Regions from separate parts of the Homo sapiens genome. Here region 2 is linked to region 1. Evidence: fine-mapped expression QTL. A gene starts in region 1. The other region holds a variant in brackets. All regions are shown on one strand. Distances are between the middles of the regions.

Region 1 (15,787 bases):
AGTTGGAGACCAGCCAGACCAACATGGAGAAACCCCGTCTCTACTAAAAATATGAAATACAAAATTAGCCGGGCGTGGTGGCACATGCCTGTAATCCCAGCTACTCGGGAGGCTGAGGCAGGAGAATCAGTTGAACCCAGGAGGCGGAGGTTGTGGTGAGCCTAGATCACACCATTGCATTCCACCCTGGGCAACAAGAGCAAAACTCCATCTCAAAACAGAAAAAAAAAGTGAAATATTATTTGGTAATAAAAAGAAATGGAGTACTGATACATGCTGTAACATGAACTTTGAAAACATTATGCTAAGTGAGAAAAGCCAGACACACACTCACAAAACACATATTGTATGAAGCCATTTATATGAAATGTTCAGAATACACCAATCCAAAGAGACAGAAAAGAGATAAGTGGCTGGCAAGGGCTGAGGGAAGTGGGAAATGAGGGGTGACTGCTAATGGATATGGGGCTTCCTTTGGGGAGACAGTCTGGAATTAGCTGGTCGTGATGATTGTGCCACTCTGAATATTTTAAAAATTACTCAATTGTGCATTTTAAGAGGATGAATTGTGAGGTATGTGAATTATACCTCAATAAAGCTGTTACTTTATTTTGAGACTGAGTTTTACTCACTCTGTCACCCAGGCTGGAGTGCAGTGGCACAGTCTCGGCTCACTGCAACCACCTCCTCCCAGGGTTCAGGAGATTCTCCTGTCTCAGCCTCCCAAATAGCTACGATTACAGGCACGCGCCACCATGCCCAGCTAATTTTTGTATTTTTAGGAGAGACAGGGTTTCACCATGTTGGCCAGGCTGGTCCCGAACTCCTGGACTCAAGTGATCTGCCCACCTTGGCCTCCCAAAGTGCTGGGGTTACAGGTGTGAGCCACTGCACCCAGCCAAGCTGTTAGCTTTTAAAAATCACTTTGTAGAACTTGTTTGGGTCCTGATTTAAACCAACCAATTATAAAGACACGTAGGAGACAGTCTGGGAAGTCTGAACACTGAGGATTAGACGATATTAAGAAGTTATTACTAATTTTGTTTTAGATGTGATCGTGGTGTCATGGTTATTTACAAATGATCTCTTGGGGACACATCTTAAGTACTTACAGATTAAACCATGTGATAGCTGACATTTGCTTCTAAATAATTTAGTCTGGGAGGAGCACAGTATGTATGGAAACAAGGTTGGCCACATACTGATCTTTGTTAAAGATGGGTGAGAACAATGTGCCCATTCATTATACTTTTCTCTCTACTGTTGAATATGGTTTCAAATTTTCATGATGAAATGTTTCAAAATTATTTTTAAGAAAGAAAACCAAGGACACAAAAAAGGAGAAAAAAGCCTGTCATTAATCATCTGTTCAGGCCAGGCATGGTGGCTTATGCCTGTAATCCCAGCACTTTGGGAGGCCAAGGCAGGCGGATCACGAGGTCAGGAGATCAAGACCAACCTGGCTAACACAGTGAAACCCCGTCTCTACTAAAAAAAATACAAAAAGTTAGCCAGGCGTGGTGGCGGGCGCCTGTAGTCCCAGCTACTCGGGAGGCTGAGGCAGGAGAATGGCATGAACCCGGGAGGCAGAGCTTGCAGTGAGCTGAGATTGCGCCACTGCACTCCAGCCTGGGCAACAGAGCAAGACTCTGTCTCAAAAATAATAATAATAATAATAATAATCTGTTCATTTGCATTCCTAAGAGCCATCCTTCCAGATCATCTATTTCCCAAAGTTGATCCCGGCCAGGCTGAATTCTCTTCCTCTGGGCTTCCCCAGCACGTGGCTCGTTCTTCTAGAAGGGTGTCAAAGTTACTCGTATTTCTGTCTGTTGAGTTTCATTTTCTGTTTAAACATATATTTATACCATTTCAGTCCTCTAAAATTCTCAGGGCTGACTCTTTCTAAGTAAATACTTTTCTTTTGGATAGTTGAGGTTTATCTCTTTGAGATGTTAAATGTTTTAATATTTTGGACAAAAGTCTTTGTAAAATAAGTTACATGACTTTTACCTTTCTAGTCAATATTTATGAAGCTGACTTACCCTATATGAGTTTCAAGAAGTTAATCATTATGAAAATTAATCTTGGCACTTGCCATAATAGTGTGATTCTCACACAGGATATTCAGGAATAAGGCTGTTTGTTCCTTACACCAAATGAACCCAGGTTGCTTTGTTTGTTTGAACATCTCTTGCTTTTGTGATATTTTGGTCACTTCTCTTGCTGGTACTGCCCCTTCTTTCTGCCCTGAGAGTGCCCTCCTTGACCCTTTCTGATTTACCCTACGTGTGAAGAAACCAGACAATTAAACATATTACAGTTATATGTAGAATGACTACACTGCCTGGCTACCCAGGACAATTTCAGTGTATACCTATTGTCCCAGTGTAATTAATAAATAGCATCCTTAAAAAAAATTCTTGAATGTATCCTAGTTGGCTTTTTCTTTCTTTTTCTTTTTTTTAGTGGTGGGATCTCACTCTGTTGCCCACACCGCAGTGCAGTGATGCAATCATAGCTCACTGCAGCCTTGAAATCTCGGGCTCAAATGATCCTCCTGTCTCAGCCTCCTGAGTAGCTGGACCTATAGGGCATGTACCACCACACCTGGCTATCCTGGATTTTAATAAATTATCTGATCAACCTAGTTATATGCCAAATATGAGTATATCCTTGTTACAAGGTTTGACTGGCCACTCTCACCAGTTCTATTAAAGGGACTGACTACTTATCTACTCCCCAATCATGTGCTAAAGTCTAAGGATATTGTGGCTTTTTTTCAACATTTACTGAGGATTTATTAGGTGCCATTCACTACGTTTGTCCTTGTTCTCTGGTTCTCTGGGAGCTCATAGTTTAGTAAGGAGGTGACATAAATATAAACATGTAATTTCAATGCAGTGTTGTACAAGCATATGTATAAAGCTAGAGGCATGCAGTTGGGTGCCTTGAGACCACAGACCAAGGGCCATTAGCCTAGCACAGAGTTTGTCAACCTCGGCATTATTGACATTTTGGACCACATAATTTTGGCAGGGGGGTGGGGGGACTGTCCTGTGCATTTTAGGATGTTTAGCAGCATCTCTGGCCTCTGTCCATTAGACGCCAGTAGTACTCCCTTAAGTCATAACAACAAAAAAATGCCTCCAGATGTTGTCAACTCTCCGTGAAGGATAAAACTGCTCCAGCTTGAGAAGCACCCTGGTCCAAGAAGCATCAGACAATGTGGGGGAACTGCCACAAAATTCCTGCTAGAGGAGACGCTGCTGAGCTAGACATAGGTCTGGTGGACTCAGGAGGGGTAAGACCAAAAAGGAAATGGAGCAGAGGAAGGACCTCACGAACAGAGCATGAGTGATGTGTAGGAGAGGGAAACAGAAAGAAGGGAGTTGCATGAATGGGTGGCATGGGGTGGAAAAGGAGTAAACTCAGTTCAGTATTACTAACCCATGTATTTAAGCGCTTTTTGACTTGTTTTTCCTATTCTGCGTATTTTGGTTAGTTCAGGGTCAGGTTGACAGCTGAATTCTAAAAGATAATATATGCAAAAGCACTTTGCAGACCCTGTGAAGTGCTATTCATATGTAAATTATCAATGTTATTACCATAACAGCAGATGAAAACAATGCACTTTATGGTTTTATTTTGTTTGCATGCACTCTGTAATCCTTAAGAATTCTGAAAAGCAGAGCATTAGTGTGCTGCTTATTAAACCATTGTCTCTCAGCTTCACTCATATACTCTGGTCGTGATGCTGGGGCAACCCCTACAAACCTCATTTTTCTTTGCCAGCCGGCTCCTTGTATTACTCTGCCAGGAGGGGACAGTAGAGGGAGACCCCAAGCCTGGAGACTGGAAAAGGGACTGCTCCTTCCTTTTCCTCTCGAGGTCACCTTGACAACGTCTCTTCACTCCAGCAGCTCAGTTGGTTTCAGCAGCAGTAGCTGATTCCAGTTTTCCCAGCACTCTCAGAACCAGCTTCATGATTCCTTTTCAAAGACACCAGCACCCACTAGCTTGGGATTTCACCCTCCTGAGAGGCCTGGGTCCCAGCTCTGAGTGTTAATAATTTCAGTGTTAATACTTCTAAGTGTGAATAATTCTTTCCTGTGATTCCCCAGCCACAGAGGTGGAAGCTGCTTCCTGTACTTACTACCTCTATGACACTTGTGTTCCCTTTTCAACTTTTCAGTTAATAAATCTTCATATTAAATTATTTCCATTATACTAACTGGCATGGTTTCTGTCTTCTCACTGACCCTGACTACCACTCGTGTTGATTATTCCACCCTTTAGTCACTCCAGATACTCAGGACAGCCATTACAAGGGGAGAAGGAGGAAGATCAAGCCCAGAGTGTCCCACGCTCTATGTGTGACTAGTCTCTGCAAGTAGCTGCTGGATTGACAGACTCCTGAATCACGTAGGGACCACTAATTTTCAGAAAAGCCAGTTAAAATCTCTTCTGGATAGTGCAGAAAACACTGGAAGAGTCTAAAGAACCACAGCATCAAAAGTAGACAAGTGTGAATGACTCAGCATTGATTCTATAACATATTCTGGAAGCCACTATTAGGACTAAATCCTTTTGCTTGAAATTTGCTTGCATGTTTGCAGTTGCTATAATAATACCTTGTATAATATACTGGGCAGAATAACACTAATGGTTTCAGCTACGTTGCTTTTATTTCTTCTACAGACATTGAGGTCCTACTGTGTACTCATAAGACAAGGTCCCTGCTGCCAAAAAAGTAAAAAAAAAAAAAAAAAAAAAAAAACTAACTCAAATAAAAAACAGAATAAAAAGTGCTAAAGCTGGGTAGTAAAGACATTTTCCAATTTCCTGTGTTTCCTATCATTAATGAGGCAACTGGTATTGAAGCATTCTTTTTTTATTTTATTTTATTTTTTTGAGATGGAGTCTCGCTCTGTCACCCAGGCTGGATTGCAGTGGCACATCTCAGCTCACTGCAACCTCTGCCTCCCCGGTTCAAGCAGTTCTCCTGCCTCAGCCTCCCATGTAGCTGGGACTACAGGCGTGCACCACCACGCCCAGCTGATTTTTGTATTTTTAGTAGAGACGGGGTTTTGCCATGTTGGCCAGGCTGGTCTTGAACTCCTGACCTCAGGTGATCCACTCGCCTAGGCCTCCGAAAGTGCTGGGATTACAGGCATGAGCCACTGTGCCTGGCCGAAGAATTCTCTTTTTTTTTTTTTTTTTTTTTTGACAAGGTCTCACTCTCACCCAGGCTGGAGTGCAGTGGCACAATATTGGCTGACTTCAGCCTCAACCTCCTGGGCTCAGGTGATCCTCCCACCTCAGCCTTCCAAGTAGCTCGGACTATAGGCACGCGCCACTACGCTCAACTAATTGTTAAAAATTTTCGTAGAGACAAGGTTTTGCCATTTTCCCCAGGCTGGTCTTGAACTCTTGGGCTCAAGCAATCCTCCAGCTCGGTTTCCCAAAATGCTGGGATTACAGGGTGAGCCACTGCACCTGGCCTCAAACCAATCTTTGAAGGTAGTTATTCAAATCTACTTGTTGTTTTAATGTGAAGATAATTCCTAATGCTTCCTTTCTTTATTCTTTTTTGAAACCTTTTTTGATAGTGAAATATTCTACCCATACATAAATGTACAGCTTAATGAATTTTTACAAGATGAACATCTATATAACCATCATTAAGGTCAGGAAATACAGTCTCAAAAACATTCTTCTCCCTACCTGCCAGAACCGACCACAATCCTAACTTGATGGGAATCACTAAGTGGGTAGTGTTTCCCATAAAATTGCTTTTTTGCTTTTTTTCATAGTTTCCTCCACTAAGTATGGAGCCACAATCACTGTAGAGTGTAATTTAGCCTGTTTTTTATATACAAAAATCATACAGTATGTACTTTTTCTGGGTTTTTGTTGTTGTTCAAAATTGTGTTTTTAGTATGCCTCCATATTGTTACACATAGTTGTATTTCATTCATTTACAGTGCTATGTAGTATGCCAGTATAGGCAATAGCATAATCTAATTAACCATTCTTTTGATGGATAGTTCAGTTATTTCCAGTTTGCATGCACAGGAGCACGCACTTCTTAGGGTAAATACCTAAAAGTGAAATTGCTGGATCCCAAGGCATACATATCCTGGCTAATGTCAAACCATTTTCCAAAATGGTTGGTTGCATCGGTTCTCACGTCCGCCCGCAGAAGGTGACGGTTCTTTGCACTACGTCCTCCCTAGCACCTGACGCTGCCAGACGTTTCAACTTTGGACTTTTCGACTCAACTTATGGTGAGTGTGGTATTATCCGCTGTGGTTTTAATTGGCCTTCTTCTGATTATTAATGAATTAAAGCATCATTTCAATAAACAGATATTTATTGGCCATTTAGATTTCTCGTGTGTTTGTGAAATACCTTTCCATTTACCCATTATTTAATTGGGTTCCTTTTCTTCTTGATTTGTAGCAGTTCCTCGCGTATTTTAGTAGTTTTATTTGTGGCAAAGATCTCCTCCCCCGGGTGGCCTCTGCCCTCCGGCGCTGGGAAGTCCGGGCGGCGAGGCAGCCTCTCCCGGGGCGTTCGGGCTCCTCCGGCTCTGCCCCGATGTCGTTATTACGGCCGTTTGCAGCCTCCGTGCCAGGGCCGGGGGTGCGGTTCGGGACGCGGGATCCTAGGTCGGGTCCTGCCCCGCCCATGTGGCGCCGGCGTCTGTGTTGTCTGCGGTCTCCAGGGCAGCGCCGGGGCGGGCGGGGGCCCGGGCGGCGGCGGCGGCGGCGCGGGAGGATGCGGGGCCCGTCCGGGTCGCGGCCGCGGAGGAGCGCCGGGCAGGTGACGGGCGGTGGCCTCCCGGATCTGGGGTGGGCGGCGCGCCCGGGGAGGGAAACGGGAAGGGCTTACTGGGGATGGGGACGGCAGGAAACCACCCAAGCAAGCTGGGGAGGAGCCGGCGCGGGAGCCTTCGGGACGGAGTGGGGAGCGACAAGGGGGCGAGGCCGCGACAAGGGGCTGGGGGGCCGCCATGCGAGGCTTCGGCGCCCGGGCACCCAGAGCAGCCCTGTTCCCGGTCAATTAGGACCGGTCCCGGGCACCAGGCCCGCCGACTTGTCACTTCCTGGACCTCCAAACGCCCCTTGTGACAGGCCTTGTTCCTCAGGAACAAGCAAAGGTAGAAAACCGAACGCCTCCCCTGGGCAGCTTCCGGCCTGTTTCAAACCAGGGTTCGTTCCTTTTTCTTTACGATTCATCTTGGTGAGCCCAAGCAGGGTTCCTTTTCCCCTCCAGGAGAAAGTTCGATTGTCCCATGCTAGTGGACTAGACCCACTGCAGGGATCCCTGGGGAGCTGGCCGCTTCTTAGTCCCTAGGTGCCATCGGATCTATCGCTGTCTTGTTTATTCAGGAGACTAGTCACCTCTCTTGGTCAGAAATTTCAGCGGCACAACCTTTTTTTTTTTTCACTGGACGGGAGGAGGGAGCCACATTCATGAAATTTAAACGCCCACTTTCTAACTTATTCAAGCTGTCAGCTGTTCCTTCTTCCACCCCATGTTTTGGTAAGATCAGGCCTCCACAGAAAACCCAGCTTTTGTGGCGTTTGGCTTTGCTCTTTGCATACTTTAGCAAACTTCAGGAATCTGCTAACATCAGCAAAATTATCTTCTGTGGTTACTGTTTTATTTTTTATTCATTCCAAGAAAGCTTAGCCTATTTCATTTAAGAAGAGAAGTTCAAGGGACTGAATTATTTTAAGAGTAATTCTAAGTTGCACTATAACGCTTAAGCTTGCTCTTCAGGATCTCAAATTCAGTGACCTTAGCTCCTCCAGTAAAACCGGTGTTAAACAATCTCTTTTACTTAAAATGTGTTAGTATTTGATAGATTTGCTGCTTTCTTGGCACATCCTAAAAAAGCAACAATTAAAATAATAAGGCAGAATGCAATATGTATTTTAAAAATAAGAGACAAAATAATACAACAAACCAGTCTGTAATATTAGAGAATAATATGTTAGTCTACCAACAGGGCAGACTTCGAGTTCAATAGAAAACTCACTTCGTGTGTATTTACATATGAACGTTCCCTTTTGCCTGTTGTTTGTTAAGGTGCTTTCCTCCAAGGATTTGATGATGCTCCTTGCAAACATTAGCAACAAGGTCAACATTATAAGCAATCCTAGGAATAGTAATAAGGTTGTGTCATTTAATTAAAGTTAGGATTTGCCAAAAGAACAAGAGCAAGCCATTAAGACAAATTTTACAGCAATTTCTAATGGTAAAGGTTTCTGTTACCTGACTCACAGAAAAAAAAAAAATGGGTATAAAGGCAGTGAGATAGAAAATAGACCAAAATAGAAATGCTAGGTAGAGATGAAAGGAAGCACAATCCAAAAACATCATGTCCGTTCGGTCCTACATGAACTCAAAGCACCCTTTCCATGGCTCTTTATAATGACCCTTACAGACAGTGCAGGTTCACTTGAATCACACTCGTAAGTGAGTTGGAAGGGACTCCAGCTAACTCTTAGCTGTAATTCAGGCCAATCTCCCACCCACTCAACTTTCCCCAGGATAGCATCCCGTTCGGTAATGTAGACCTCCAGGCTCTGCTTTGGATCGCTCAGTGGCAGAATTCACAAGACCACTAAATCTTTTGTTGAACAGTTTTATTTATTTTTTCTGATAGGGTCACGTTCTGTTACCCAGGCTGGAGTGCAGTGGCACTCCAGCTCACTGCAGCCTCTGCCTGCCCGGCTCGAGTGACCCTCCTCCCACCGCAGTCTCCCGAGTAGCTGGGACTACAGGCCCATCCCACCATGCCCACTAATTTTTTGTATTTTTTTTTTTTTTTTGTAGAGATGGGGTTTTGCCATGTTGCCCGGGGTGGTCTTGAACTCCTGGACTTAAGCGATCTGCCCACCTTGGCCTCCCAAAGTGCTGGTATTACAGGCGTGATTGTTGAACAGTTTTAATCGTTATTATGGGTTTTAAAAAATACCGGATGAGGTTGATCTCCATTTATGTCCACCTAAATTATATGTTCCTATCTAGTCACAACCTGGCTATCAGAAAGTCTTTTCCAAATGATGTTGCCAGCCCATATAGGTCTAGGAACAAAACAGCTTCCCCATTTACAGTTCCAACTATGGAAAACTACACTCTTCTTTCTTCTTACTTTACTTTCCAAAACATAGCCCCTGAACCTGTTTTACTCTATCCATGAATAACTACGGACCATATTTATATTGCCCATAGTTATTTGGGCATTTGAAATAAGGCTATCAAAGTACTGTCCATAATTAACCATTTGTCTTAGTCCAGGCTTGTCTGTAACAAGCCCTTGGAAGCTAGAAATAGGAATCCACTTCCAAGCAGCCATTTATTTCATCAATAAAACTGCATTCGATTACTCAGGCTGCTTATGAGCGCTACATCAGATGTGTTTCTGCAGAGAGAAAAACAATTGTTTTTCTAATAGACCTTTCTTATACACACAAAAGGGTGCATACAAAAGCCTGCAGATAATATAACAAGGTTCTCTTACTCATTTAAATATTTGATTAACGTTGACAGTATTGAGATTTTAGTGGTCGCAGAGTAACATAAATATATTTTTTTTCAGGTAACGCTTTTGTGAACCACAACTTTAAATATCAGCCAGCTGCTCCTATCAACACGAGTATCCCCTGTTAATTTTTTGCATTTTTCAAGATGAGTAAACGTAAACTAATTCCCAAGCTCTCTATTCAATCTCCTGTCCTTCATACCAACTTAAATGTCCAGTCCACACACCCACCTTTGAAGAAAGAAGACTTACATCGGATTTCAAAAGACTCCTTGGAATCTGATTCAGAAAGCCTCACGCAAGAGATTATGTGCCATTCTGAGTTTGATGATCGAATCCGGGGCAACGGTATGGAGCCCGACAGCTTAGACGAGGAGGAAAGCCCTCGATGGGGAAGCCTGCACGAGATGGAAGAGGAAGCAAGTGGAAAAGCAGCTCAGATGGCTCGCGAGCAAAACCACCATACCTGGGACCAGGGCGCCAATAACAGGTAAGGAATTGGCTTGTGTAAGATAATAATGGGCTCTAAAATGTATCATTAGATAATTACTGTCGTCATTCCAAATTAGAGTAAGGGCAAGCTGCCCTAATGAGCGCCGTGTGTGAGACAGGTCTCCAAGCAGCCAAGGATAGCTGGGCACCATGTTTTTTCCATATTCAGATTTTTTTTAATTAAAAAGTGCAATGGGTATTAATAAGGGCAATTCGCATTTCTCATACCATTTACTTCCTGTCCATATTCCAAGTGTCTCCGCACTAGGACCTCACCTGGGAGAAATTCCAGAAAGCCGGGTATGGAAAAGGATGTGGAGTCAGGTGGACTTGATTTGGTCCAGGCGTTGCTGTTTAGTGTATAATCTGGAATAAATCACTTAACTCTTTTTTTTATTTTTTTAAAAATTTTATGTAGTATTAAATATTTACAATAGAGATGGGAGCTCATTATGTTGGCCAGGTTGGTCTTGAACTCCTAGCCTCAAGCAATCCTTCCACTTCAGCCTCCCAAAGTGCTATGATTACAGGCATAAGCCACCATGCCTGACCCACTTAATTCTTTTTTTGGCTCACTTTTTCTCGTCTGTCAAATAACCTGACTTGCCTATCTCACAGGATTGCTATGAATGTCAATAAAGTACAAATAATTGGGGGTAGAATCTTACTTGGCCCATTCAAAGCTAGTAGAGGTCTACCTCTCAGGGCTTGTATGATCATATAAAGATTTAATCTAATAACCAGAATTTAAGGGATTTAACCTTGTGCTATGAGCTACCAAAAAAAAGTAAGGGAATATGAAATAATGTGTGATATCACTCTGTTACAATTGAGGCACTGAGGATATGAGAGTACAGAAGAAGGTAAAAGCTATTGATTAGGAGGAGGTTTTAGTGTGGTGGTGAAGTGCATGGTGTCTGAAGCAGACCATTTGGGTTCAGATAGTGGCTCTGCCACTTACTAGCTGTATAACCTTGGCCAAGTCCAATTATATTTCTGTGCCTCAGTTTCTTCATCAGTAAAAATGGGATAATAATAATAGTTAACCAGTTATTATGAGGCTAAAATAAATACATATAAATTGTTTAGAATAGTGACTGGCTCCTTATAAATTATATCGTGTTAGTTTTTTTTGTGTGTGGGACGGGGGAGGAGTCTCGCTCTGTCATCAGGCTGGAGTGCAGTGGCGCAATCTCAGCTCACTGCAACCTCCACCTCCCGGGTTCAAGTGATTCTCCTGCCTCAGCCTCCCGAGTAGCTGGGACTACAGGCATGTGCCACCACGCCCAGCTAATTTTTGCATTTTTAGTAGAGACGGGGTTTCACCATGTTGGCCAGGATGGTCTCGATCTCTTGATCTTGTGATCCGCCCACCTTGGACTCCCAAAGTGTTGGGATTACAGGCGTGAGCCACTGTGCCCGGCCGATTTTTTTTTTTTTTAATTCAGGCTGAAATATATTAAGGAAAGTTTATTGGAAGGCCTAGAACTTGGACAGGGTCTTGAAAACAAGCTAAGTTCTGGATAACAGAAGAGAATGGGAGTGACATGTTTGTGGCACATTAGGGAGCCCAGCTGGATTGCAGAGGATTTGTTTTGAGTGTAGCAAAAATAGACTGAGTAGGGGTCTGATTATAAGGGGGCCTTAAAAATGTGCTTATGGTATTGGAAGATACATTTTCAGGTCTTGAAGTGTAACCATCCTACCACAGATGAGGATATTGAGTCTTACAGAACTCAAATGATTTGTCCTTGGGATACAGTCACTGCAAGGGCTCGTGTGGGAGCGAGAAGTAGAGCCCGGTCCTGAGTCTTTTCTTTCTTTCTTATCTTTCTTCTTCCTTCCTTTCGTCTTCCCCCCCTTTTTTTCACTGGGGCTATCTAGTTGAATCAATCTCATAAGTGTCTTAGTGATATGTCACAGTAAAAGTGATAAGAGTTGTCACCAAGGTGCTAGAGGCGCAAGAGGCTTGCAGGACAGCTTCAGAGAGACAGACAACCTTGATAGGACTAGGCTGGGAAAGCCAGGCAGAGAGAATACAGGTTCTTGGGGAGGGCAGTGAGATGCAGCAGCGTTTAAGGAAGATTATTATGCAAGCTAGTGCATTTTGAATTAGAGACTAAACACACAATGGGCAAAGAGACTGCTGGATGGATATGACAGTAACAATGACATCACTTTTTAAAAGCCTATCTTAGTTTCACTCAATTCTCCATCACAATCCTGTAGGGAAGTTGCTGCTTTTCCTATTTTACAGATAAGGAAAATGAGGCTAACAGAGATGAAGAAACTCGTCTAAGGTTATAGTGCTTGGAGGATGTCCTTGTTGTGTTACTGATGCTGTTTTTTTTTTTAATCATGCAAAAATTCTAACCTATAGAAAATTACAGAGAAAAATACAGTATAACCCTTACTGCCATATTTGTTTCAGACCTATTTTTAAAATTCATAGTGTATTACAGATAAAGTTTCCATGTACCCCCTTCTCAAACTCATTCCCCTTTCTTCCCCCTTAGAGGTAATCAATACATACTCTTACGTGAGTGTGCATCCTTCTCACCAGTCTTCCATTCATTTATTTCATAGGTGATCTATAATTAGTGAATAAATATATATCTATATATGGATGCATGATGCCCATTTTGTTCAGTCAACATTATGTTTTTGGGATTTTACAATTATGCTTTTGAACTAAGACATGGTCTTGGTTGAATATTGATGAATATTTAGTTTTTTTCCAGTTTTCGTTATTTCAGACAATGCTCTGTGCATGTCCTCGTGTGCCTCCTTGGGTATGCATGCAAGGCTTTCCTTAGGGTATAAATCTCCAGGAGTGGAACTGTGGTTCATGGGCGACTGGACATCTTCAACTTTACTCACAAGTGCCTGCAAGTTACCAGTCCTCAGAATTACTGTCTTTTTAACTTTTGCCACTCTGATGGGTTATAAAATCCTGTCCTATTATAGATTTAAATTACTTTTCTCTGATAACTTGTGAGCTCGAGAATCTTTTTACATGGTTTTAACCAAATGAGATGGATTTAGACATCCTCTTTGGCAACTGGTTATTTTCATTTAACAAAATACCCATGTGTATCTTGGGTATCCTTCGATAGAGTTGGCTTTCCGTATCCATGGTTTCGCATCTGTGGATCCAACCAAACATAGATCAAAAATATTTGGAGAATAAATGGATGGTTGAATCTGTACTAAACATGCACAGAGACTTTTTTTCTTGGCTTTATTCCAGAACAATATAACAACTATTTACATGGTATTTACATTGTATTAGGTATTATAAATAATCTACAGATAATTTAAAATATATAGGAGGACATGCAGGGCTATATACAAATATTACCCCAATTTATAAAAGGGACTTTCCCATCCCTGGATTTTGGTATCAGCAGGGAGTCCTGGAAACACTCCCTCACAGATAACTGAGCGATGATTATACTTATATGTTCATAATACATGTGTACATGGTACATAGTATTCTAGTATCTGGAGGTGCCATTATATATTTATTCAGTCACCCAAGGGTGGACTTTGGGATGTTCCCAGTTTGTTTGTTTGTTTTGGAGACAGAGTCTTGCTCTGTTGCCCAGGCTAGAGTGAAGTGGCACGATCTTGGCTCACTGCAACCTGCGCCTCCCGGGTTCAAATGATTCTCGTGCTTCAGCCTCCCGAGTAGCGTGCGCCACAATGCTCGGCTAACTTTTTCTACTTTTAGTAGAGATGGGGTCTTACCACATTGCCCAGGCTGTCCTTGAACTCCTGAGCTCAGGAAATCTGTGTACCTCGGCCTCCCAAAGTGCTAGGATTACAGGCGTGAACCACCACTCCCGGCCCCAGTTTCTTGTTTTTTTTTTTCCAACGAAACTTTAACTGAAATTATATATATATATAAATGAAAGAATTGACAGGGTTTGGTGACAGATTAGATATGAGGATTGAAGGAACAAGAGAAGCCAAAGATTAGGGTTCCTGTAACAACAGCTAGCATTTATAGAATGCTTATCATGAGCCCATTTCTGTGCTAAACACTTTACATGTATTATCTCATTTAATCTTTATTGCAACCGTGGTAGATACTATCATGATCCCATTTTGAAGGATGCAAATGAAGCTTTAAAAGTTATATTATACCCATTCATTGCATCTAGTGAGTGGTGGAGCAGAAAACTCAGGCAGTCTGACTCCATGGCCCCAAACCCTGTTTTTATCCTGGTTCTAAGAGATTTATAGTCTCCTAGGTAATAAATGGGAGTAGTTTTAGTTATAGAAATGGGGCCACTGGAAAGGAAACATCTGTTGCAATGGATAGGTATTTTTGTCTGTATTTTTAAGATGAAGAAACCAAGGTAAGGATCCATGAAGTGACCTCATTTCCCAGTTGTTGGGTTTTTTTCTCCTTTTGTCCAGTGCTCAGGGACCTGACTTTAACCCTTGTTCTTACCAAAGGACAGTTTAAATACAATCTAATATGTTTCAAAATAAAGAATAATGCTTATAAAAATCAAAATTATGGTTAGATCCTTGGTTTTCTCATTCAGAGGTCCTCAGATAAGGCTGTTTTCCTCAGATTGATTTGCCTTGGACATTTTTTAATGATGAACTGTAAATCCTAGGGTTAGAATAGGTTATAGCCCTAGTCATTGTTTGGCTATATAGTGCTTCATACACTGAAATTAGGATAACCAGTTCTCCAATAAAAAGGAAAACAGAACTGAAGCATTTGGGTAAATAATGCCTCAAAAATATCATTCAGGTAAGCATTTCATTACTGGTCCCTTTCCCTGCCTCATGTTAGTCTTCGAAGCCTCTCCTAGGCACACTCTTGCTGGGATCTGAGTAGTTTATGAGCCCTGAAATAGACAAGGAAATTGATCTCAGACTCTCAATATGAAATTCAAGTAGGCTTTTATGTCTGTAAAGTAGATGGCATTCTGGGAATTGTAGTTCAAAAACAAAACTGTCAAAGCTTGCCTTAAAACCAAGGAAAATTTCTTTCTTCTTGCTTTTGTAATCAATAATTTTAAAAGCTGCCTGACAAATCACTTGAGTCCTACACTTGTGTTTTGATGTTACTAGAACCTCCTCAAAGCAATTATTCCCTTGTATCTGACCAAAGTCAAGCCATAGTTCAATGTATATGGATGAGAGAAAACCTTTTACTTAATGGAATTTGGAGCAGCATTGACTGTAGTGAATAAATGAAGAGTGGAGAGGGGATCTTCACGTGATAATCCTTAAACCCCACTCCAGAACTGGCCTTATGACACTCAGCACTCACGAAGAAAGAGATCTGTGTAATTCCTAGAGCATTAGAAACAACCTCTTCAGTCCTGGGGACTTCTGAAACCTTGTATATTAAAAAAAAAAAAAATCAGAGAGCAGCCATACAGTACTTTATATGTGTTTAATAAGGTCTTGTTAACAGGAATATTTATATAATTAGCTACCATTTGTAAAACTCTTTGCTTTATATATACAATCTCATTTATCCTTACAGGAGCCTCTTGGATAGGCATTATTATCCCCATTTTGCAGATAAGGAACTGCAGATCTGAGAGCTGTATAGGTATACGTAATTACTAGATAGTAGAGCCAGAAATTAAATTGACCTCTCTCCAAACGCTAAAGCCTGAGCCACTAATTACAAGTATTCAGATAGGTAATCAAGGATTGAGCTGATAGAGGATTCTATTTCACTATCCAGTAAAAATTAAAACT
Region 2 (15,787 bases), 51 kb after region 1:
TCCTAATACCCACCATGATGACTTGAAATATAGTCGGCATTGGCAATTTTGGATAGTCTCTATGGAGACTGAAGAAAAAATGATAATAATCAAGGTAAAATCGCAGTGCTTGATTTATGGCATGACCTTTGACAGAAGCAGTAAAACTTTTGTATGGAAGAAAATCAGAAGAAAACCAAAAGAATGCTTTTTATTCCCTGCGTGTACTGTAATTAATGCTCTTATAACCCATTCCTGAATGAAGAAATTGTGGAGCAAAACATCTAAAAAGTGTTATTGACCTAAAATGACAATAACCACAAATGGCCTAAGGGATGTTTCCCATTCTTTAGGTGGAAAGGATTTGTGGACTGCCCACTGCATGCTACACACCAGCCCAGCACTCTGGGACACAGACACTTTAGGCTGCCTTTCTTTTTCCTCTTCAACTACCCAAGTCCAATGCCTTCTTTTTAGTGCCTCCTCAAGGGCCACCTCTGCATGGAGATTCCCAGCCTCTCCCACCCTGCTCCTCTGCCCTCAGCTCCTGCTGTGTCTGTAGTCTGGGCCACTGGCTCAGGGCCTGCCATATTGGGCCGTGTCTCATTAACTGCTGCCTGTGTTTCTTTTTCTTTTCTTTTCTTTTTTCTTTTTTTTTTTTTTGAGACGGAGTTTTGTTCTTGTTGCCTAGGCTGGAGTGCAATGGTAGGATCTTGGCTCACTGTAACCTCCGCCTCCTGGGTTCAAGCGATTCTCCTGTCTCAGCCTCCTGAGTAGCTGGGATTACAGGCACCCACCACCACGCCCAGCTAATTTTTGTATTTTTAGTAGAGATGGGGTTTCACCATGTTGGCCAGGCTGGTCTCGAACTCCTGACCTCAGGTGATCTGCCCGCCTGGGCCTCCCAAAGTGCTAGGATTACAGGCGTGAGCCACTGTGCCTGTGTTTCTTTTGTACCCACTACACTACAAGATCTTTTAAGGTACCGATTGTATTTTTCTCTACATCCCCTACCACAGTGCTTTGCCCAAGGCTGATGCTCAGTAAATATTTACTGACTGATTAAAGAAACATTTAAAGATCATGGGCCAGGCACAGTGGCTCATGCCTATAATCCTATTGCTTTTTTGGAGGCCAAGGAGGGAGGACTGCTAGAGGCCAGGAATTCGATGTTACAGGTGCCACTGTACTCCAGCCTGGGCAATAGAGCAAGACCCTGTCTCTAAAAAATACAAAATGCAGATAAAAAGATTATTTAGTGTATCTCCAGGAGAAAATGGACCTCATTTGAAAATTTTTTCTTGAAAAATGACTTTCAGAGTTTCATAAACCTACCCTAACAACAATAACCTTCACTAATGTGAAATATCTTTGTGCAAAATCAAAATATTTCACACAACAAATATTTATTGAGTATCTACTGCATTCCAGGCACTGTGGATTAGGTGCCTGGCCCAAAAGATACGGGGAAAAAAAAAAAAAACAAGCAAACAAACAACAACAAAAATTCTTTAAAACAATAAATAAAACTTGAAGAAAGGTTGTTTTTTGTAGTTGTTGGTTTTTTGTTGTTGTTGTTTTTGAGACCGAGTCTCACTCTGTTGCCCAGGCTGGAGTGCAGTGGCACAATCTCGGCTCACTGCAAGCTCCGTCTCCCGGGTTCAAGCCATTCTCCTGCCTCAGCTTCCTGAGTAGCTGGGACTATAGGCACCCGCCACCACGCCCGGCTAATTTTTTGTATTTTTAGTAGAGACGGGGTTTCACCGTGTTAGCCAGGATGGTCTTGATCTCCTGACCTCGTGATCCGCCCGCCTCGGCCTCCCAAAGTGCCAGGATTACAGGCGTGAGCCAACACGCCTGGCCCATTTTTTCTTTTTAAGGCTGAGTTTCACTCTCGTTACCCAGGCTGGAGTGCAATGGCACAATCTCGGCTTACCACAACCTCTGCCTACCAGGTTCAAGCCTCCCAAGTAGCTGGGATTACAGGCATGTGCCACCACGCCTCGCTAATTTTGTATTTTCAGTAGAGATGGGGTTTCTTCATGTTGGTCAGGCTGGCCTCGAACTCCTGACCTCAGGTGATCTGCCTGCCTTGGCCTCCCAAAGTGCTGGGATTACAGGTGTGAGCCACCACGCCTGGCCAAGGTTGTTTTTTGTTTTTTTTTTTTTTTAAAGCAGTACCTCCCCTCTAGGAGTTCAACACTTTAGTGGGAATCATTATGTAATCATTATAATGCAGTAATATGGACCTGGGTACAAAATGCAGTGGAACTAAAAGAGCAACTAATTCTGCCCTAAGAAGACGGAGAAATAACCCCCATAGGAGTCAGTATCTCAGCTGCCCCTAGAAGGACAAATCCGGGCAAAGGTGTGAAAGTGGGAGGAGGAACGAGGAACCATGACAGCTCTGGCTGCTATTTGTATGGTCTAGGGAGGGAAAAGTTGACATAGTTGGTAAGGGCTGCTGTCTGCCTCACGCATCCCAGGACTCAGACTGGAGAAGAGATTGTTCGCAATCTAAGCAGGTACCCAGCAGTGAGGTGCCGTGCAAGGGACATTACACATGCAACTCATGTATATGGAAGGCTCCATGACTTGAAAAGACTAAATACCAAAAATACAAACAATAATAATTACATATATGTAGATAGATGTATATTTGTTTGTTTATGTGTGGAGTGACAGAGAAAATGATGAAATGTGACCAAATGTTTAAAATTGTTCAATCTGGATAAGAATCCTTTAGAGTTGTCCATACTAGCAATTTTTCTGTAAGTTTGAAATAACTTGAAAATAAAAAGGTCAAGAAAAAAGTGCCCACAGGATTTGGTGACTAAAAGTTTATTGGTGGCCTGAACAGAGCAATTTCAGCGGGATGGGGAGAAGGAACGCTCTATGGCAGGGGACAGAGGTCAGCATGAGAGATGGGGAGCAGAGACCAGTGCAGTCTACACCATCAAGACGCCCAGCTGTGAACTGAGAAAGAGATAGATTTTTCTTTGCTTTTGTTTTTTGAGAAAGGGTCTTGCTCTATCACCCAGGATGGAGTACAGTATCGTGATTTTGGCTCACTGCAACCTCTGCCTCCCAGGTGCAAGCGATTCTCCTGCCTCAGCATCCCGAGTAGCTGGGATTACAGGTGCAGGCCAGCACGCCCAGCTAATTTTTGTATTTTTAGTAGAGACAGGGTTTCACCATGTTTGTCAAGCTGGTCTCAACTCCTGACCTCAAGTGATCCACCCGCCTCTACCTCCCAAAGTGCTGGGATTACAGGCATGAGCCACTGTGCCCAGCCAAGAAAGAGATAGGATTTAACCAGAGGATGTATTCAAGTGAATGTTTTTTTCCTTCTTTTCATAGGAGAGACTTAAATACATTTACATGCTAGAAAGAACGAGAAACCAGAGAAAGGGCGAGAAAAGAGAGAAGATATGCCTGAGACCATTTCAGCCTATGTATTTTTACTTTAAAAATACTGAGAATGATGGTCATCATCATATTCTATGTAAGAGTCTTATCCATGCCCAGATCCATCACTTGAAGCCAAGTCATCTCTCTTCATTTAACCTTGCTACATAGGCCTTAGCGTCCTGAATCGCTTCGCACTTGCCTGTGAATCTTCACAGGTTTTCCAAATCCTGCTTAGGTTGTGTGCCCAGACTGAATGCAGTATGTTTAAGGCTCAGGACTCTTGCTGGGCAGTGTGAGGGGCACATTCCCACTGGCAGAAGATCTTTTCCAGGTATCTTAGTCTGTTTGTGCTGCTATAACAAAATACTATAGATCAGGTGGCTTAGAAACAACAGAGGTTTATTTTTTTCACAGCTTTGGAAGCTGGAAGTCCAAGGTCAGGACACTGGCAGTTTCTATGTCTGGTGAGGATCTGCTTCCTGGTTCATTGGTGATGCTTTCTCACTGTGTCCTCACACAATGGAGGGGGGGAATGAGCTTCCTTGAGCCTATTTTATAGGGACATCAATCCCAAGAAGGAGGGCTCCGTCCTGCTGACCTAGTCACCCGAAAAGACCCCACCTTTAAATAGCATTACCTTGGGGGTTAGGATTTAACGTACGAGTTTAGGGAAGACACAAACATTCAAACCATGGCACCAGGCAAGAAACATGCCAGTAGAAAAAAATTAAAAGTTCCCCAATTAAGTAATGTTTCAAAAGGATAAATAGGATGTTTTCTTTCTTACCCCTCTAAAATAACTCTTAGCTTTCCAGGCAAAGAAAAGGTAATGATAGTATTAAAGATATATAGGACCTTTTACTTATTAATATGAAAGCCCTTGTAATCAAATCCTGATTAACCTTTCCAAAAAGCTGTTAATTTGGTTTTGCCTCCAACACTATCAATAGATCTATGCTTCTTCTATTCATCTGAACACAGAGTTCTTCCTTACCCACAGAGAAAATCAGAGCCAATTAATATTTTTGCTTGAGATTCTCTTAATATTATCAGATGGAATTTGTATCTCGGGCTTAAAGTACTCATGTTTTATTGTTCATAAACACAGCAGAAAAGCAGAACACAACAGACATGTCTTCACTTTACAGCTGATCTCAGAGCCCAGGCACAACTCTCAGGACTCCACGGTTGAGTCAGGTTAACTAAGAGCAGGAGTGGCTTTTGTGTTGAAACAGATGAACTTTCTGGTTGAGATCAGAGCAGGCATTGTCCCGTCTGCTGATGAAATGTGAAAAGGAAAGCCGTAAAAGAGAAACAACAAGGTGCTGGCTTTCACAGGGTCGGGGACAAACTTCTCTTGGGTGGCACAGTATGAACGAGCATTAATTAATAACTAAGGATGAGTCCCACCAAGAAATTATCATCCCAGCATTAGGCATCAGGATTCCCCCATGCTAACACTCCGTGTGTGACGCAAAAACCTACTGCCATTAAGCAGTTATTCTAAGTGCATGGAGTATGCAGCGACTGCGGGTGTTGGTAACAAAAGAACCCCAGTGAGAGCAGAATGGAATAGAGGATTTCAGTGCTGATGGAGATTAAATCGTCTGAGAATGGCTTTGTATATTAACTTCAGGGAACTCAGGTCTTGCCACCTAAAGAGTGACACCTGATGCCCCAATTGTAGGGTAATAAATCTTCAGTAAACCACAGATCTCAAGTAGGCTGCTTGGAAGGTGAGAAAAATCGTATCAAGCCCATAAATGGCTTCCTTTCTGGGGACTGAAATGCCATCTCTGGGCACTTATATGTATGTGAATAGCAGATTTAACACTTGAGACAATTGAAGTTTCATAAAATGATGAGTCCTTGGCCTTGTTGTCAGAGCGCCCTGTGAACAGGATTGTCAGCAGCAAAGGTAATAACATGATTAAGATCAAGTGGTAACCCAGGATTTCACATCTAGTACCCAAGAAATTTCTGAGAAGTAAGTATTTTCTTTTTTGGTGAAAATTAAGAGAGAAAACTAGGAAAAGTACATTTAGATGGCAGCATCCTGGTTACTTCTCTAGCGAGTTAAAGGCTGAACAAAATATTGAAAAGAATGACATTATCAGCATCAATTAATACTTTTAGGTCACAGTCAAGGGGGGCATTTTTGACCTTCACGAATAGTGCTGCCAGCCATAAAAAGAGCTGCTATATTCCACAACCACACCTATAATATTGTAATATAGCAATTATTTTCTGGATCCATTACAAGAAAGGATTTTCTTGGAGCTATGTATTTGCAGAGCCTTCCTGCCCGCATTTCCCCATGCAGCTCAATTTACTGCATGGAAGGAATACCTAGAATTTACCTGGAATACAGAAGAGAAGTTTTCCCTTTTTTGGGAGCACCACAGGTAAAAATTTAAAGTAAGTAGGAGCTAATCAGAGCCTGGCCAATCCCCCAGAAAGCTCAAATTCTCAAAAGAACAGCTTCTAAATTTCAAATTAGAAGTCGTTATTTCTTAAAAATATGATATGATAAGTAACATTGTGTATTACTGTTTTAAATTTAATAATCTCAACATTATCATTATAATGTGATTTCACTAGAAATAGAACACTGCTTAATATTATACAGGAATAGGATGAGTCTTAGTGGTTGTATCAGAATGTATCAGAAAAGAGAAATCAAAGCTGAACTCATCACAGTAATTTGATCATTCCTTCTAGCAAGCTAAAATAATCATTCATCCAACTGTTGCATTTTTCAGTTAATGTTTTATAGATAAAAGCTAAAGAGATTTTTTAGTATATGTGTTCAGAAAGGAAGAAATATGTTGCAGTTATATAACACACTGATGCATATGGTCATCCTACTGTTTTCAATAAGCATTTAATCATTCTTTGCAAAGGCCTCTTAACTCAGCTAGTTTTCCACGAAGTAATGAGTGCTTTATTCCTTGGAAAATATTTCTAAATGGCAATAGCACAATATAGTTACATAGTGTATCTATTATACCAGGAGTACATTTTGTTGTTAGGAGACTTTGAAAAGCATAAAGACTGTTGTGAAATTGAAATATTTCCCCCAGATGTTTGATTGCCTAAGCGCAGGCTATATTAAGGAACAGAAGCAAAACAGCCCTTGTGGCTTCACAGATGTCCTATCACAGCACAGGCTCTTTTATAATCCTCTGAATAAAATCTAATTTGTTTCATCTGGTGAAGAGGTCATTTCTAGCTTCTGACCAGCATGAGTAAAAAGATCTGATCATCTCAATTGTATTTAATATTAGATTTGTACTTGGTTTGTAAAGCAAATTATTAGTGTTTTCTGGTTAAGATTTTTAAAAATATTCATGTTACTTAAAATAAGCTTGTATATTGTAATGTAGATTTGCATTTGTACTTTCTCCGTATCTCTCGAAGTAAAGCTTCCCCACCTCATCCCCCAAGTTGGCAACACTTTTAAGTCAAAGACTTAACTTTTAAAACTTAAACTTTGAAGCCAAAGACTTGTCCTTAATATAAAGCCCATTCTAAGCTTTCTATTTCTTTCTAGGCTTATAATCCTAAATTTCCAGGAGGAATCACTCAGTTATTAACTCCAATTCCCTGAAATTAGGAAAAAAATCGTCTACTTTTTCTTTATCTGCTTTCAGTTCTATGGTCACCTTCCTAGAAGTCTCAACCCCCAATTTGGAAAACACTAATTTAAAATTTGTGGGCTGAGGCAGGAGAATGGTGTGAACCTGGGAGGCGGAGCTTGCAGTGAGCCCAGATCGTGCCACTGCACTCCAGCCTGGGAGACAGTGAGACTCCGTCTCAAATAAATAAATAAATAAATAAATAAATAAATAAATAAATAATAAAATAAAATTTGTGAAGAGTGCCAGTCTTCTAATTTTACATTAACCAAAAATATCTCTTTAGAATTACCAGGAACACTGGTCTCAATATGAAAGTACAAAATCAAGCAATGTACCAAGAGGGCAACCTTCTGACATGGTGAATGACCATCAACCTTCCAGAAGACCAGCCAAGCTCAAGATTCGAAAGCAGTGTAAACACCAGAATGGCCTGAAGTCTTCCACAACGGAAGAGGTGACTGCCAGTCAGGGGAACCAGAATAACCCTCCCAGGCAGCAACAAAACCAAAATAAGCCTCTTGATACTTCAACAAAGCCTGAATCGATTGTGATTATGCATGCCTCTAACAATGATGTACAAGCCTCAAGGGCACTTAGAAGCCACAATCTCAAAGAAACCTCCAATACATTTGCTCCACCAAAACAGGCTTTTGACAAGGTCTTATCTAAAAACTCTACTGGATGTGACTCTGGGCTGAATGTTAATAAAGAAAGAGGACACAAAGACCAAGAAGAGAAAAGATTTTCATATCAGCAGCTACACACCCTTTCTGACATGGATTTGAACAACCTTAATGAACTTTCTAAGAGACACGTGCTCCTGAGCCAGAAAGGCTCTCAGTTTGTTTATCACATAAATACTCATGGATCAACCAAAAATAAGAAACAACTCAAACAGCCTTATACAGAGACAAAATACAGGAACTTAGAAATGTTATGGTAAGAATTCCCTTTTCTCAAGTGGTTTTCTAGAGGAGAAAGGAGAGACTGCTGCAGAAAGACGGGAGAGGAAGAAGGGGAAGGGGAATCCATAAGGTGGCTAGGTGAGAAGAAGAGTTCACCTAACAACTTCCTTAGCTCTGATTCCTGCCTCAAAGAGTCCACTTTTTTTTTTTTTAGACAGATTCTTGCTCTGTTGCCCAGGCTGGAGTGCAGTGGTGCCATCTTGGCTCATTGCAACCTCCGCCTCCCGAG[C/T]TCAAGCAATTCTCCTGGCCCAGCCTCCCAAGTAGCAGGGATTACAAGCGTTCACCACCACACCGGGCTAATTTTTGTATTTTTAGTAGAGACAGAGTTTCAGCATGTTGGCCAGGCTGGTCTCGAACTCCTGACCTCAAGTAATCCACCCGCCTTGGCCTCCCAAAGTGCTGAGATTACAGGTGTGAGCCACCGCACCCGGCCAAGAGTCTACTTTTGATGGATTTCTTTTCCTCTTCCCTGTCTCCGCTATTTTTCCACTGTAGTTAAACTAGAAGTTGAAGGGAGAGGAGGACAGAGGGACCCAGTCAAAAAACATCAGTGTGTTTGGGGGTTGCAAGTAATGTTTGGAGGAAACAAATGATCTTCAACATTATCATGGCCTATCCTGAGAAAATAATCTAAAATACAGAAAAATATGCACATACAAAAAAATCATCATTTATAGAGGTGACCTAAAAATCCAACAATAGGGAATGTTTAGGTAAATTATGATATTTAGTATCATGGAACCACTAAAAATTATGGTTATGAGGAAATGCTTCTATAGGAAGAAAATAGTAAGGTACAAAATTACACCTTGGGTTGAATGACACTGGTAGAAGAAAAAGTACATCTAAGGAGTATGAGTTCTACTGTGTTAAAATATGCACAGAAGAAAAATTTACCAAAATGTCAATAGTGGTTATCTCTAGCAAGAGGGATTGGGATTTTAAAAATTTATTCTTTATATTTTCAGAACAGTTCAAGTTCCCCACGATGTAGATGTATAACTTCTATAAACAGGAAAATGAAAGTTATTTTAAAAATTACTTCAGGCACCATTTCTTGGTGTTCTTCGATCAAACGTCCTTTCTACATACCTAACATACTGAATATAATGCTACAGTGCTAAATGCTATACAAGGTACAAAAGAAGTATGGTGTGTGAGGCACCTTCAAGGAACTTGACTTTCAAAGTAGGGAGACAATTACTCCCTCGTGAGTTGATCAAAGAACATTTAAGTGTCACACTTGGTGATATGGAATGTAGATTTAATAAGATTTAAAGTTAGCTTCCTAGAAGAGATAATGATAAATAGCAGGCATCTTTGTCTTTTTTTTTTTTCCTGATTTTAGAAAGATTGTTTCTGACACTTTTACCATTAAAAATAATATTTAGTTTTTGGTAGATAGATAGATGATAGATGGGAAATTTCCTCCTATTCCTCTTTGCAAATAACTTCTATCATAAACGAGTATTTGATTTTATCAAATACTTTTTCTGCATTAATTGAAACATTTCTCCATTAATCCTTTAGTGTGATGAAATATGTTAACAGATTTTTCTGATGATGCACTGATTTTTCTGATAACCCTTTTATTCCTAGGGTTAACCCAATTTGTCATACTGCATTTTTAATAAGTTGCTTGATTTGATGTGTTAACACTTTGTTTAAGATTTAACATTTTCATATACATGAAGTGAAATTGGCTTATAATTTTCCTATCTGCCACTGGCCTTGACTGGGTGGATTATCAAGAAAATACCAGCCTTATAAAATGAGTTGAGGACTATTTCCTCTTTTTGCATCCTCTGGGACACTTTATATACAATTGGCCTTACCTGTTACTTGAAGGTTTGATAGAATTTTCCTCTAAAACTATTGGGCCATTGGTGGGTTTTGTTTGGCTTTTTGTTGTTGTTTGTGAGCAGATTTTAAACTCCTGATGCATTTACTATAATCATTATAAGACTTTGCAGTCTTTTCATTTTCATTTTAGTCAGTTTAATACATTATATTTTTCTAGGAAAAATTTTCCTTTTATGCTGTCTTAAAATGTACTGTCATAAAGCTTTTTGTAGTATTTAAATAACTTTAATATTATTCCACCTTTATTATATCTATAATCATGTCCCTCTTTTCATTTCTTTTTTTTTTTTTTTAATTTTTTTGGCAGCCTCAACCTCCTGGGCTTCTTTTGCTTAATTCTCTCTGTACATATAGCTAATTGATCCTACGCTTATGAGTAGCCTTTTAGTATAAGTTTCCATAAGGACAACCCCATCGGGCAATTTCTCAATTCTTCTCTCTTTCTTGGAGCCAGACTTTGTAGACACCTTTACTTTCTTTCTCTTTCGAGACTTGCTTCACAGCTGTCCTGGCTGAGGATTCCCTTTGCCTTTCTTCTGATAGGATTCTCTTTTTCAGTATCTCACATTTTCCTTATTTTGTTTGAGCACCCCTTCCGGCATTTCTTTCAGATTGAAAATGTGGTACAAGGACAGGGGACAGGGTGATGGGCAGTTCTCAGCGTGCCAGTGTCCTGTGCCACACCTGTTTTCTGACTGCGTTCCGCTGTTGTTGTGCTCATATTATCCTTAAGAATCTCCATGCCCTCATGGAGACCCTCTTCACTCTTCTCCTTCGTCACCCTTCCCGTTTTTTCCATCCCCGTTCTCTTTCTTAGTTTCGTCTCTAATTTTGATAGAGAACATCCTCCATTGCTTGAGAGGTAAATGTTTTGAGATCTTGCTGAAATTATCTTTCTTCTGCCCTCGCCCCTGATTGGTAGCTTGGCAGAGGATTGTAGAATTCTAGATGGAAAATCATTGTCCCTCAGAATTGCCTTCTTGCATCCAGTGTTGCTGTTGAGAAATCTGAAGCCACCTTATTCCTGATCCTTTGTATATAATCTGTTTTTTTTGTTGTTGTTTTTTGTTTTTTGTTTTCTGGAAGCTTTAGGATCTTTTCTTTTTCTCTACTGAAGTGAAATTTCATAATATTGCGCCTTTGTATAGGTCTGTTTTCATAGATTGAGCTGGGGCCTTTAAACCTGAAAACATATGACCTTCAGTTCTGGGAAAATTTCTTGAGTCATCTTTATGGGTAGTTCCTTTCAACCATTTTCTGTTTGCTCTTTCTAGAAACTCCTGTGATTCAGATGCGTTTTTCCAGGACCGTTATTATGATTTTGTTTTCTCTTTCTTTCTCCATTTCTTTCTAATTTTGTTCTACTGTCTGGGAGGGTTTCTCAGTCCTAGCTTCCAGCCTTTCTACTGCTATCATGTTTGTTAATTTCCGACAGGATTTTTTTGTTGTTGTTTCTGTTATTGGTTTCTGAATGCTCCTCGTTTTATAGCCTCATGTTTTTGTTCATGGATACAACATCCTTTTTTCTCAACGTCTTCTTAGATTTTCAACAAGGCAAAATAGGGTGTAAGGGCCCTTGTGACTGAATTTTTAAGTGTTTTTAATTCCCTGCTTTGCTTCTCTTTCCTCTAGGTCTTTGTCAGTGATGTTTGTTTCTCTTCTCCTATTTTGCTGCCTTCCACCTTAGGGCTTGTGTCAGATGTCTAGCAATTCTTGATCATCTTCTCATGATCAAGTATGAGGGACTAGAAAGCTTATTGGAAGCTCTGAGTGACAGTGCTTGTTGACTTTGAGTGCCTATAGAATGATCTTTGGGTGCCATGTGATAGGAAGCCCTTCCTGTAGGTTTTAGGTCTTTTCTCTTGGTGGTCAGATTTATTATCTGTGCTTGGTGCTTCACAGGCAGAAGACTTGTTGGCTTCTTCAGAATGAAAACCTCCAGCGAGCTGCGGAGAGAGGGAAGGGACAGTTGCCTAGGTGCACAAAATGGAGAAGATGATCTGGAGATCCGCCTGCTTCTTCTTTTTTTTTTTTTTTTTCCGGAGACGGAGTCTCACTCTGTTGCCAGGCTGGAGTGCAGTGGCACGATCTCAGCTCACTGCAACCTCTGCCTACCGGGTTCAAGCGATTCTCCTGCCTCAGCCTCCTGAGCAGCTGGGACTACAGACGCCCATCACCACGCCTGGCTAGTTTTTGGATTTTTGGTAGAGACAGGGTTTCACCATGTTGGCCAGGATGGTCTCGATCTCCTGACCCCGTGATCCACCCACCTCGGCCTCCCAAAGTGCTGGGATTACAGGCGTGAGCCACCGCACCCAACCCTGACTGCTTCTTAAACAGACTTTCAACCAAATCTTTTTTAAGTAACTCTCACATAGACTTTCACCACCGCCACTCCCACTTACAGCTCATGAGCCTTACAGGATTCTATGGTGTAAACTGTGGCTTCTCTGCTTTCCCTGCTGCTAACTTAGATTCCACTTTTTTGAGTCTGCTAAGATAGTTACCATTCAACCATCTGTTCTCTGCTTCCGAAATATTTGCTCTTTTCCCCCCATTTTGTTCTCTTTATCTTCGTGGGTTGATGTCTTTTAAAAATCTCTTTATATATAATTTTGATTTGCATTTGAGAGTTAAATTGCATGCTTATTCTGCCACGTTTTTTCTACCACCTTTTCATTTTGAAATTGTTCACACCTAGTAAAAACTTGGGGGAAAATATCTACAATAAACACCTGTAGTCCTTCATCTAGATTCATCAGTGCTAAAATTTTGCAACATTTTCTATCTATTTACTGAATCATTTGAAAGCAAGTTCAGAATCACAATATTTTATCTCTAAATATTTCAACATTCAGCCCCTAAGAATAAGGACATTGTCTTATACAACAATCACACCATTATCACAGCTAAGAATATTAACGTTATTGTACACAATATCATGTAGTATCAGTACATTTTTAAATTGTATTACTTGTCTCCAAAAAGCCTTTTACAGCTTTTTTTTTTTTAAATTCCTGATCCAGTATTCAGTGTTCATACATTTCATTTACTTTTTGTCCCTTTAATTAAAAAAAAAAAAATCTAGAACAGACTGGGCATGGTGGCTCACACCTGTAATCCCAGCACTTTGGGAGGCCAAGGCGGTGGATCACTTGAGGTCAGGAGTTCGAGACCAGCCTGGCCAACATGGTGAAACTCCCACTCTACTAAAAATACAAAAATTTGCTGGGTGTGGTGGCAGGCTCCTGTAGTCCCAGCTACTCGGGAGGCTGAGGCAGGAGAATCTCTTCAGCCTGGGAGGCAGAGGTTGCAGTGAGCTGAGATCCTGCCACTGCACTCCAGCCTGGGCAACAGAGTGAGGTTCTGTCTCAAAAAAAGAAAAAAAAATCTAGAACAAATTATCCAATGCTCACTTTTCATTGTTTTCTATAACATTGCCTTTTTAGAAAAAATTTATTGTTTTTGGATAGTTATATTTAGGTTGACCATTTCAGGCAAGAATACTACTTGGGTGATTTGGTGTACTTTTTATTACATTATACCAGGGGATACATACTATCAGGCTATCATATTATTGGTGATGCTAAGTTAAACCTTTTGATTAAGGTAGCGACTACCAGATCTCCCCATTGTAAAGGAACATTTTCCCTTTATAAGTAATTATTAATATTCGAGACAGTGTAATTATCCTAGTTTTCAACAGCTTTTTGTACAGTGGTTTTAGCATCCACTGACAGTGCTTACCTAAATCATCCATTACACTGGGGTTGCAAAATGGTGATTTTGTAATTCTATCAATACCTATACATTTATTACATGGCTGTTGAAATAAGACCTTTTCCTCTTCCTTTTTCTCCTTCCTTCCTTCCTTCCTTCCTTCTTTATCTCTCTCTCTCTCTCTCCCTCTCTCTCTAGTATCATTATGGACTCATAAATCTTTTCCTATAAACATGTTAAAGTCTATTACCATCATTATACTGTATATGTTCTCACTGTCTTGGATTTGAGCAGTGGGAGCCCCTTCACTCCAGTTCCTGGGTCCTTTTGATGTAACATCTTTTGTCTTCGAGCACTTCTTTGTTTTCTGGCATAGTAATATGTTCTAGGTTTACCTTTGGACTTCCCCTGAACTCATGTGGAAGCATCAGTTTCTCCAAAAAACCCTAATTCTTTTTAGTAGGGAATGGAATTTAGAAACCAAGATTTGAGAGCTATGTGTTCTCATTGCTACTGAAATGTTATTGCTTCTAGACTCAAGATCTCAGCAGTTAGAGCTAGAAAATACCTGTACCTGAACCTCTTTCTATAATTATGCCTATGCCAATACATATTTCTGTATACTAGTGGGGTCACACAGATACCTCAAATCCAACAGCTCTGGGTTCTTCCTCATGCTTCTCCTTTTCCATATTTGTATCTCCTTTTTCCAACAGTGAAAACCTTAGTTTACCAAAACATCAATATGTTTACACATTTACCCTTCCCTACAGTATATGTACAAATAGTTTTATAATTACAATGCCAGTACCACTACCAAACAGTCAGTCTAAGTAAAGCTCATGATTTCTTTGCCATTCTTTTTCCTCCCTCTATATTCTTCTAAGGGTGTACAACCAAACTACATTGACTCAAAATTACTTCATAAATTAATTCTTTTCTCTTGGTAGAGGTAATCAGTTTAACATACAGTTAAATTCATTTGTTTTGCTTTGTATTCAGTGTTAGGATTTTCTTTTCTTCTCATTGATTTTAAATTTTATTTTATTTTTTGAATATGTAAAACATTACATGGTAACCAGCTGCTTGTAGGATGTGTGACTGCAGGTCACTGTGTGTGCCTCCTGTTTGGTAAGGACCATGACAAGAAATAGAAATTCCCTTTTTGTTGTTTGTTTTAGTTTATTTATTTATTTATTTATTTTTAGACAGAGTCTTGCTCTGTCACCCAGGCTGGAGTGTGGTGGCACAATTTCGGCTCATTGCAACCTCTGCCTCCCAGGTTCAAGTGATTCTCCTGTCTCAGCTTCCCAAGTAGCTAGGATTACAGGCACGTGACACCATGCCCAGCTAATTTTTATATTTTTAGTAGAGACAGCGTTTCGCCATGTTGGTTAGGCTGGTCTCGAACTCCTGACCTCTGGTGATCCACCCACCTCGGCCTCCCAAAGTGCTGGGATTACAGGCGTGAGCCACCGCACCTGGCCAGAAATTCCTTTTTCAAAGCAGAAATTTATTCTGTCCTAACTCAGAAGAAACCACAATAGTTTATTTGTGCTTTCTCTCTCTTTTTCTTGATCAGCCTTGCAAAAGGGTTGTCTATTTCATCTGTCATTTCAAAAACAACTGTTCCTCTATGTTTTGGTTTTGTTTTCTCTTTTATCCATCTTTGTTCTCATATATTTACTTCTTTTCTTTGATATTGCTTGAATTTACTTCAGTGTTTTTGACTTCTTAACTTCTGTTATTTATTTATTGAGACAGAGTCTCACTCTGTCACCCAGGCTGGAGTGCATTGGCATGATCTTGGCTCACTGCAACCTCCATCTCTCGGGTTCAAGCGATTATTGTGCCTCAGCCTCCCAAGTAGCTGGGATTACAGGCATACGCCACCATGCCCAGCTAATTTTTATATTTTTAGTAGAGACAGAGTTTCACCATGTTGGCCAGGCTGGTCTTGAACTCCTGACCTCGAGTGATCCACCTGCCTTGGCCTCCCAAAGTGCTCAGATTACAGGCATGAGCCAACGTGCCCAGCCCTTAACTTCTGTTTTAAATGCTTAGCTCATTATTTCTAAGGCTTTCTCCTTTTCCAATATAATTTAAAATTATAAATGTTCCTCTAAGTATGTTTTAGTTGCTTCCCACATGTTTTAAAATGTAGCATTTTTATTATTGTTTAGTTCTAAGTATTTTCTTCTCTTTTTA

Evidence for each region. PIP is the estimated chance that this variant, and not a neighbour inherited with it, causes the effect.
Region 2: its variant is the best candidate, but not a certain one, in a credible set for the expression of JHY in tibial nerve (GTEx, PIP 0.66).

Annotation. Positions count from the first base shown.
Region 1 is chr11:122,876,145-122,891,931 of GRCh38, forward strand. JHY (junctional cadherin complex regulator) reads left to right here and starts at 6,615. Exons shown (of 9, transcript NM_024806.4): 1 at 6,615-6,828; 2 at 9,617-10,049. The coding sequence starts at 9,706. RefSeq lists a silencer at 6,734-7,093.
Region 2 is chr11:122,927,106-122,942,892 of GRCh38, forward strand. JHY (junctional cadherin complex regulator) reads left to right here. Exons shown (of 9, transcript NM_024806.4): 5 at 7,315-7,970. It also overlaps the pseudogene RNU4-23P. Among named protein-coding and RNA genes, the nearest start is that of BSX, 47 kb to the right of the region's middle. The variant C/T (reference allele first, on the strand shown) is at 8,226.